2 separate regions of the Homo sapiens genome follow, and region 2 is linked to region 1. Evidence: fine-mapped expression QTL. A gene starts in region 1. The other region holds a variant in brackets. All regions are shown on one strand. Distances are from middle to middle.

Region 1 (5,377 bases):
AGGAGAATGGAGTGAACCCGGGAGGCGGAGCTTGCAGTGAGCCGAGACTGCGCCACTGCACTCCAGCCTGGGTGACAGAGCGAGACTCCGTCTCAAAAAAAAAAAAAAAAAAAAAAAAAAAAAAAAAAAAAAGAAAACCCAATTCCCCTTGAGAAAGAGAAAGAGCTGGAGTCCTTTAAAAATTAACTGCCTGTTTTTCTGTGGCTAGTGAGCCTTATCTCTCCTCCCTTCCCAGGCATTGTGAAGACCCTGTTTCCCTAGCTGTGCAGCTGCAAGGTCACCAGACAGATAAACTCAAGTCGCAAAACATGTTTTTCCTTGAAAAGTAAGAAATGATGTAATACATGTCTCAGTTGAATAACTGTCTTTGTTTCTCGCTTCTGTAATATGCTTCCCCCTGCACAGATCTCCCCCCCACAACACCCCACCCCATGAAATGCTTAAAAGGTAACTTAACTCTTTGTTCAGGGCTCAGTCATTGGAATGTTAGTCCTACTGGGCCGGTGTACCTAAATAATAAATATCCTCCTCAACCCCATCGGTCTCTGATTCCTTATCAATCCTGCTACAGTCTTAGGCAGAGTCATCAGTTGGATATAAAGTTTCTCGGTCTGTTTTTAGTGAACGTACATGGAAAACACGTACAGAACTGGAATCGTGGAATAACTCACATGTGGAATTGAATCCTAAGCACAAGTTTGGTACCAAGGTCCACACATGAGGTGGGAATCATGCAGCATGAAGTCCCCTGGGGAGTCCCACACGGACCTGCATGGTAGCCACTGCCACCTGCCCCACCAGCCCAGCACGGCCGGCTTCACCCTGATGCTTCTGCAGTTGAGCAGAAGATGATGGTGGGTATGAACTTGGAAGCTAAACGGTCTGGATTTGCATCGCTGCACTTCTATAAGCCCATCTGTAAAACAGGTTTATGTGGATTCAGTAGTTGAATATAGGAGAAGCCGTAAGAGGGATTCTCGGCACTTCATAAATTCTCGGACGATGTTGGAAATGACGGCAGCGAAGAGCACGATGATCACTGTTACAGACTACAGCTTCCCAGCTGGCAAGGTGCCCACACCCCAAGGGGCAGGAAGAAACAGAGACAGGTAGGGACAGTGTGCTCCTGCTCAGGCTCACCTTGCTGCTGCGACGCTGGTGGCCACAGTTGCTTGCAGGACCTAAGGCCACCCACAGCGTGGTGTCCAGCCTGGCTGACCTTACCCTTTTCCGAGGGACCTGAAGTAGTTGAGGGTGGTCCTGGGACATGCTTGTATATTTTAGAGGTGCAGAGTGTAGAATTTAGAAGTAAAAGGCCATCGTGATTGCAATGTACTTCGAATTAATTCCAAAAAATCTAGAGAAGAAGCAAATGCAGGAAGTTATCGGTAATTGTGACATCTGGCTGATGGTAAATGGGTGTTCTCCATACCCTTCTCCCTCCATTTCTGCATGTTTAAAATTGTCCACAATAAAAAGATGAAAACATGAATGAAAGTATCTTTTGCTAAAACAACAATATAGTGGAGATGAGGTATTATTGCATGAATACATCTACCTGCACAGATTTGAAGCAACCTCTGATTAGCCCCAAGCAGGCCCCACAGTAAATAGAGCAGGCATAATATCCTCCATTTAACAAGAGCCTCCCTGAGCCCGGGGGTCAGGTGCATCTTTGGTGAAGGTCTTTTTATGAAGCACTTGCCTGCAGCGCCTTTTTGTGAATGTCTAATCTGATGTCAGGTGGTCCCTCCAATGTCAGCCTCTGGTAGAAAAGTGCTACTCCCAGAGAAAAGCGTATTCAAAACTGCAAAATCATATCCTTTTCTGCCTCCTGCAGGGCTCTTGGCTCTTGAAAAACTGCTTAATATTTCCTAAAACCCAGGGGCTATTTTCCACTCTCCTCTCCTCTCTGCATTCCATTCAGCAATCCCGAGGGGATGTAGATGAGGATGCTGCCTGTTGTTTCCTTATTCAGGAAATTCTAAGGCATTTTCTCTACATGGAGGATTTTGAAGAGTGAATGAGAAAAGATAAACATCTTCAGAAAGAATCTCTGGGTGCTGGCAAGCAAGGAATGAGTTTTGCATTCGGGGAGGCCATTTGCCTTCAGTGTGGGGAGTCGGCAGTGTCAGAACTTGGCAGTGAACCTGAGGACGTGGACAGGAGCAGATGGGATGTTTGACTTCACCTCCCTTTTTCTCCCCGATGCATTTCAGTGCAGGTCTGCTGTGCTGCACCAGCTGCGTGGCTGAGGAGGAGACGAGGAGGAGGTTCTTGGGCACAGGAGGAACGGGGCTGGGGTGAAAGCAGCCAGCCAAGTGCGGGGGGTGCGCTCAGCGGGGGAAGCCAAAGTGCGTGGAAAAGAAGTGCTCTCCAGGACCAGCCCTGCCCACGGCCTCCTGGCCCTCAGGGGGACTCACAGACCTGACTCAACAGGCGCACACTCACACACAGGCACACATGCATGTACACAAGACACGTGTGCATATGAATGCACCCATGCACATGTGCATATGTACAGACGTGCATGGCACAGACACAGAAACATGAATCTGCACATGCACACACATGCATGCACACAGAGAGACACACGCATGCACACACATGCGTGCACAGAGAGACACACACAAGCACACGTATGCACACATGCGTATATACGTATGCATGTATACCACAAACACGCACATGCACAGATACACAAACACATTCACACACACACATGCACACATATGCATGCACACACAGAGACACACACAAGCACACATGTGCACACATGCATATATACGCATGCATGTATACCACAACCATGCACATGCACAGATACACAAACATTCACACAGACACACACATGCACACACACATGCACAGAGACAGAAGTACATGCACACACACACACATGCACAGAGGCATGCACACATGGAAGAAGCAGATACAAATGCACATATAGACACGTGTGCACACACATGCAAACACAGACTCAAAGTGTGGGAGACACCACCACCACTGCGCTGTCTGCTTACCTGTGTTTAGGGACTTTCGAGTTTTTCCACCTCTGCCACATTCTGCAAACCCCGAGAAGTGCAGCCCTTTTGGGTCATGATGGTGTCTGGTTCCCCTGCAGGAGAACATCTGGGCAGCTGTGGCGTTCGCCTTCCAGAGAGACTCCTGTCTCCTCCTACTGGGGAGGACTCACCGTGGACACCTGCAGATTGCTAAGTCATATCTCCAAGACGTTCTGGAGCCTGCTTTTCCACAACTCGAATAACTGTCGAATTTCCCACAATTCGAATAACAATAGAACGTGTCCCCATTCATTTCAGAAAGTGGAGGGCTCAGTGGAACAGCCCAGGACCTCATGTGAGGAGGAGATGGGGGCTGCTGAGGCCAGCATCAGAGCCTGGACAGGCACAATAGAATGTCCTAAAGAATTTCTGGAGACATGGCGAATTGTACTGCTGTCTAGATTTGCTCCTCCCCTGTGGCCCCAGCCCTGCTCATGCCGTTGGGTTAGGCCAGTCAGTGAGTCAATGGAACCAGTTGATTGGTTAGACGGTCCAGGTATTGGCTGCCGATGTGAGCGTGTGAGGATGGTAAAGGGCTGGCCCCCAGGTTAGGCTGGGCACACCTGATTTGAATAGATATTACACAAAATGTCCTCCAAACAGACTGCTCCTACACGCACTGCCACCAATGATATGAGGGGGACTGTCCCATCTCCCCCAGGCCCTTTTCCCTTCCCTAAAGACGGCAGAACAGGTTCTGTCTTTGCAATGATGAACCCAGACTCAGGCACCTCCAGTGGCTGAGCTCCCCAGAGAAGGCAGGGCCAGCCTCGTTCTGCACCTCCAGGCCATCCCACCATTGCAGGAGGCAGGGCAGGCATTTAGAGGAAGGGGAGGGGACACAGGGAGGACAGGAGCCGGGCCTTTCCCCCAGGGCTTCCTCCGTCCTGCTCCTGCAACAGCTTCTGGGCTCCGCTGGACCTCACCTGACCCTGCTCCCTGCACGGGGCAGCTCAGGGACCTTGACATCTGGGAAGAGAGGCTGCAGGGGAGGGGCTGGCGGGCGGCTGGGGGTCCCCGTAGTCCGGCTCTTTTCCCTCCTCACACACTGCTGTCTGCTCCCCGCTTGCCTGGCCCTGAGGCGAAGGGCCCAGGGGTCGCTGGTGAGGACGGGCTGCAGCTGGGCTGTCCTGGTGGAGGGAAGGAGATTATAAAAGGCCCTCAGAGAGCTACACAAGGTGGCCTTGTTTGGGGAACAGCCTCCCTCAAGCTCAGGGTTCCCTCCCATGTGAGCAGGAAGGGGTGGCCCAGGACCTGTGGTCAGGAGGCCTGCACTGTGTGGCTGGGGTGGGGGTCACTGCGGGTCTATTTCTAGCTCCGGCCTCTGCCCCACAGCCGGAGGCATTGGGTGAAGCCATTTGCAGCCTGAGGCATCCAGCGCCCTGGCCCTCCCTGCAGCTGTGACCTCACCAAAAACAGAGGCCACACTTCCCAGGGCGGGAGGGGCTGGAGGGCCCAGCTGTGAGGGTGAATGTGGCTGAGACCTTAGCTCCCTGGGGACCCAGGGCAGAATGAGCTTCCTCTACAACATACTGTGGCTCCCCATTGATGTGCAGAAGAGTCCATGCCCCTCCTCAGCTGGGGTTCACCAGTGTCACTACCACCCTTAGTCCTACTCCTCTACCAGCACCCCCTGCCACCTTGCCCTTCTTCTCTGGGCTGTGGCCTCATCCACCTCCATCTGTGTCCTGGTGGAGACCAGCACCCTCCTGGGGCAGGGCAGGAGGGCTTCCCTCTGTACCTCAGTGCCCAGAGTAGGACCCGGCAGGGCCCTCACCCTGCAAAGACGGGTACAGTGAGTGCAGAGGGTGAGGACGATGACACCCATCCTCGGGCACGCTGTAAGCAGCCATGCCTTCGAGCCTGAAAAGTGCTGGCCACAGTTCCCAGGTGGTCAGGATGCAGTGGAGCTGATGGCCCTGGGGAGTCAGCTCAGCCCAGCCCAGCCAGCAACAGGCTCTGCCCCGAGGCGCGAGTTCAAATCCCCTCCAGGCTCCAGCTGGGGAGGGCAGCCCACTCAGCCTCCCTGGACCTCAGGGTCCTCGTCTGTGAAATGGGAGTGAAAGTCACGGCGGGCGAGCCCGGGAGGGCTGCTGTGAGGATGAATGAGGGACCAGCTCCTGGCACGATGCACACCCCGTCCAGCCAGCACCGTCACAGGGGGTCAGCAACAAGGATGATTCCTCTTCCTCCCACCAAGGCGCAGAGGGCCTCTGAGTCACAAAGGAAAGGAACAGAGAAGACAGGCTGTGCTCCCGGTGACAAAGAGTCAGCTCTAAAGCCCAAATCCGCATTTACAGATGAGAAAACAA
Region 2 (5,377 bases), 74 kb before region 1:
AATTCCCTGACTTATAGTTCCAACATCTGTGACATATTTGTCTAATTTTGTTGGTTGCTTTGTCTCTTGACAATGAACTCTTTTGTGCTTTTTTCTGTGTCTTGTAATTTTTGGTTGGAAATTGGACATCAGCATATATAATTCAAAATTAAGATAAACACTGGACAATACAAATTGAGATAAATAGTATTTATACCTGGAAATTGGCATGCCTCTTCCTTTAATAGGCCTTTTTTTGAGAGTTGAAGGATAAGTAAATCTTTTCCCTCTGCATGGAATGTAGCATTTGCTCTTCCCTCTGTCTAGAATGTTCTTCCTGATATATCCACATGTCTGATTCCTTCTCAGCTTTGAGTTCTCAGCACAAAACTTGCTTCAGTGAGAACTTCTTTGACCCTATGGAAGTGGCCTCCCCAAGTTTTTATCTATCTTTTCACTTTTTGGTTTCTTTTGTAGCAATTATCACTATCTAAAATTATATTGCTTTGCTACTCATTTTGTCATTTTACATCTGTTTTCTAAGAGAGAAGGGCCCTTATTAACTTTGATCTCCCTTGGTCAACAGTGCATGGACAGTGTCAGTGATGTAGTAGACAAAACTCTCCTGAAGCAATGAAGAAACCAGTGCACAAATGAATGAATTAAACAACTTTTTATGAGTCTAATGAAGAAACTCTGCTGGGTTTTCCTCCTTTGCTATGAAGCCTTCCTCCCTCCTCCCTGGACTGTAAGGAGGTAGTGCTCCCAAGTCATGAGGCTGAGGAAAGAATCAGATCTTCACCTGTGGCTTCCTCAATGCAGTGCTTCTTCTCCCAGTCCAGCCCTGTCTCTCTTCCTCTTTCCTACATTTGACTACTGCTTCTGCTATCTCCTCCTCAGCCCAGCGGCACCCAGAACTTGGTTGAGCAGTCCTTGTGCCCACCCTGAAGTCTGCTCACCCTGAGTGTCCACCCTAACCCCTACCACCCCAAATCCAGAGTGGTATCAGACTCACATCAGTTTTGTTGGCCCTGGGTCAATCTTACTTCCTGGTTAATAAAACAAATCTTTTTGTTTCTCTTTGGTCTTAAAAGAAATTTGACATTTGTTAACACTGAATTTAACCTTCTCTCCCAAAGCACTCTTGTAAATGCAGTGGGCATCTATTCCCAAGCCATCAACTCATGTGTGCAGAATCGCCTGGTTCCTTTATAACTGAGTATAGTCTTTCTCAACAGCCCACACATTGCCTAATGGCAGAAAAGAGTAGACTCAGTTCCAGGGGAACGGCGTCAATTTGGGGTGGTAGTGTCTTTTTAGACCATTGAGGATTTTCTCCCTTCCCTGCTCTGTTGCCTGTATGTTGCTGGTTCTCATGGGGCCAGGGTGAGATCCTCAGCCATCCCCTCTCATGCCAACACCTGCTGTTCGTGCATGTCCCATTCAGGATCTGGCTGTGCAGTACTCAGCGTGCCTGGTGTCACCTCCTCTAGCCCAGAGCAGCCATGCTGCCACATCCCTCCCTCCACTGCCTGACCTGGTCCTCTGGGGCCCAGGGTGCATCACTCCCTCGCTCACGTACTGGGAGATAAGATCCCAGTCTCTCCCGAGTCTCTGTGCCCTGAAGCCTCACCAGCCACATTTTCTCTGTGTACCCTCATCTGGCAGTGTGGGGCCCACTGTGACGTCACTGCTTACAGATTCCCAGGTAGGAAATGAACCCAAGTCCTCTTTGCTTTCAGTCACCAGATGTCTCGGGGTCATGCGTCATTTTCCATTTTAGGACTAAGAGAGAGATGGCGTTTGGTGCAGGGCCCCTTCTCGCAGACCCTCCCCGGGGTCTCTATTTCTTCTCTGATTCTTTTCTCTTCCCCCACCCAGAAATAATTTCTACCTATTTTAGGACTAGGAAAAAAAAACTGGCTTAGAAAACATTTTCCAAGAGTCTCTGCATTGCAGCATGTACTTGAAACACACGCATTCTAAGAGCAGTAATTTATTGCTTTGTTCTCTATTTTGGCTGAAGGGCTTCCTCTTGGGAGCTAAAGCCTCAACAGTGAGGACCCTAGTGGGGAAGGGTCAGGGAATAAAAGAGACAACCCAAGGCAAACATACATCAGTCAAATCTTCACAGTATTATCCTGCTGCGTGGGCATTGCTGGCCTTTTCTGGAGGGGAATCACCAGCCTTGGAGACTCTGCTCTTGAATGGCCCAGCAGCGGGCATGGGGAG[C/T]TGCCGCTCGTATCTCCAGGCCCCACTCAGAGGGACCCCGATTCACTGTCCCTATGTCAGCCTGCCACAGGGGTTTTCCTCAAATCTCCTGAGCCAGCAGGGAGGGGAGACCCCAGGAGGCTCAGTGGCAGCACAGCCTGAGCCCCCTACTGCCCACCATCAGCACACTCCCCCTTCTCCCTGTCCTCTGCCCATGAGGGATGCATGCAAGGGCACCATGAACATGCTGCACCCACAGACCACTCTGCAGGTGGCTCAGAGGGGACAGGTGGAGGAGGAGGGAGGAGGGAGATAGAGAGGAGGAGGAGAAGGAGAAGCGGGGGAGGACAGGCAGGAGAAAAAGGAGGAGGGAGAAGGAGGAGGACGTGGGAGAGGAGGGTAAGGGGAAGAGGAGAAAGCCACAGAGACCTGAGCAGGCCAGACTCCTCTGAGGGACTCATAGGAGTGAGGATGTCCCAGTGAGGCCACAAGAACAGCCATGCCTGGGCCAGGTGCCCTCCCAGACAATGTCACGGCATCATACGGCCCCCACGCATGTGTCAAAGCCCTTACCTTAAGAACAAACGATGACATTGGCTGATTAGGTCAACATGAGCTCCTGTAAAGGGTCTCAGGGAGTGTGCAGAACTGTCCTCGGGAGGGCTGGGGACCAGGGCTGGGAGGATGCACAGAGCCAGCCGGTGAGGAATCAGCCCTCGCTGCAGCTGCCGCCAGCTCCACACACACCTGGGTGCAAGGGGAGGAGGTGGGATTTCTGATCCAGCTCACATTCATATGTCTGCAAATTTGCCAAACATATGTATTTTAAAAATGCTCACTTTACCCTTGCAGAACTTAGAACACCAGGGAAAAGACTGACCTTTTCCAGGAGACCCTGACCTGGCTGGGATGACCTCTCCACCAAGGACGCAGATGGGAGAAAGAAACGGAAGTGCATTTCCATTATAGAAAGACGATTTCAAAGTCACTTTCTTGCACACGGGGTTGCAGACTGAGCTTCTTAGTTAATGTGTCTTTTACTCCGAATCAGCCATGGTGATGGAACGTGTTTTCCCAGAATTCCAGCTCTCTCTGCACAAGCTCCTGCCCAGCCTTCTGACTGGGAAGGCCCCGTGCAAATGCCTGGGAGGGAAGCAGACTGTCCTGCAGTGAATTCTGTTTAGCAGCTGCTGTTCCTGGCTGTTGAAAGGCGGTGGGATTTCCTGCTCCATGGAGGATAATTAATCTGAATAAAAAGAACGAAGGCAGGAAAGGTTACTCCAGCCCACCGTGGAGGGCCAAGGGCAGGGTTTGTCTGCACACTGCGGGGATACGTCCTCCTTTACTTAGCAGCTGCCACCAGGTCCCTGGTCACCCTTACCCTGGAGGAAATGTCCTGTAGCCCTCAGGGACACAACACGTGTGCCACCCGTGATTAAGCTTTGGCCTTTATGTCCTGTGAATTCATGCCATGTCTTGTTGTAATTAACTTTGCACAAATCTATTGATCTGAACCGTCAGTGAGTGGACAACTGCTGCATGACAGTCACTCATGTCCATTTCCCTCCTTCAACCACAACATCCCATTTCCTGCTGGGAAGAGACCTCGCAGACACTGTTCAATCCAGGTGAAAATGCCCCTCTTAACCCAAGCAGCCCCCCTCACTCGGGTCCTAAGTGAGACCCGCGTGGGCAGAGTGAGTCAGTGGGGCCCATGCACTCCAGGGAGACCCCGAACAGGCTCCGTGAGCCGCTCCTGCTTGTGGACCCCGAGCTGTCCTTTCCCAGCCAGGTGTTCCACCCTCCCCTTCGGTTTCCATTGCTTGTCACCCCAAAAGTCCTGACTGCTTTGGTCAGCCACCCCAAGAGCACCTGGATACTGGGGTCATGTTAGCGCTGCGCCAGTGAGCCATGGGGCCTGGATGGGGAATCTGGCTGCCTGAGGCTTGAGCAGAGCCCCTGGACGGGATAAACTCGCTCATCCAAGAACCATTCACTGAGCACCCATGCTGTGCCAAGCAAGCACCTGTTAAACGTGCACGTGATAATCAGAGAAAAAGCTCAATGTTAATAGTGAACTGGTGAGCGCAGAGGGCTGGTGTGGAGGGCAGTGGTGTTAGTTCACTTCTGGGTTGACCAAGGAGTTGTCCCTCATCTATCCCAAGACTTAACCCTGGAGATAATTAAACTACATGCTTAACACCTTCAGTACTGAAAGGGGTTTATTGACTTTGGGTTTATGTAAGTCACAGCTATCGATAGCAGCTGGATATCTTCATGTGTCTTATTTTATCTGATGTGGGATTTTCAGTTGGGATTGTTAAAAAAAAAAAAAAAAAGACCTGTAATCCCAGCACTTTGGGAGGCTGAGGCAGGCAGATCACAAGGTCAAGAGATCGAGACCATCCTGGCCAACATGGTGAAACCCCATCTCTACTAAAAATACAAAAATCAGCTGGGCATAGTGGCGGGCACCTGTAATCCCAGCTACTCGGGAGGCTGAGGCAGGAGAATTGCTTAAACCAAGGAGGCAGAAGTTGCAGTGAGCCAAGATTGCACCACTGCACTCCAGCCTGGTGACAGAGCGAGACTCTGTCTAAAAAAAAAAAAAAAAAAAAAAAAAACCTCAAATGAAAATGAATAAATGTCTCATTAACAATTTAATTTGAGCCTGGAGTTTCAGGACAAATTTTGTGATTGTCAGAATTTTAGATCACTCTGATGGGGAGACATTTCTGCACTGTTGATCCATACATGTGGCCTAATCTAAGTTCTCATTAACTCCTGGCTAGAAGTCTGGATGGAAGGTGTAGTGGGTTGAATCGTGGTCCCCAAAAAGATATGTCTATGTCCTAATACTGGAAGCTGTGAACGTAGTCTTATTTGGAAACAGGGTCTTTGTAGATGTAATTTAAGGATCTCAAGAAGAGATCATCCTGGATTAAGGGTGTAAATTCAGTGACTAGTGTCCTTACAAGAGAAAATCACAGGAATATTTGAAACCTGAAGACACAAGAAAGCCATGTGAAGACGTAGGCTGACATTGAAATGATGCATGTACAAGCCAAGGAACGCCAAAGGTTTCCAGCAGCCACCAGACGCTGTAGAGAGACGTGAGATGGAGGGTGCCTCAGAGCCCCTGGAAAGAACCATCCCTGCACAATCCTTGGTTTTGCACTTCTGACCT

What was found. PIP is the estimated chance that this variant, and not a neighbour inherited with it, causes the effect.
Region 2: its variant is the best candidate, but not a certain one, in a credible set for the expression of LINC02370 in tibial nerve (GTEx, PIP 0.71).

What each region holds. Positions count from the first base shown.
Region 1 is chr12:131,345,308-131,350,684 of GRCh38, reverse strand. It overlaps LINC02370 (long intergenic non-protein coding RNA 2370), which reads right to left and starts at 3,215. Exons shown (of 5, transcript NR_103736.1): 1 at 3,024-3,215; 2 at 1,141-1,357. RefSeq lists enhancers at 1,781-2,325, 3,518-4,155 and a silencer at 4,697-4,921.
Region 2 is chr12:131,419,217-131,424,593 of GRCh38, reverse strand. No RefSeq gene overlaps it. Among named protein-coding and RNA genes, the nearest start is that of LINC02370, 74 kb to the right of the region's middle. The variant C/T (reference allele first, on the strand shown) is at 2,212.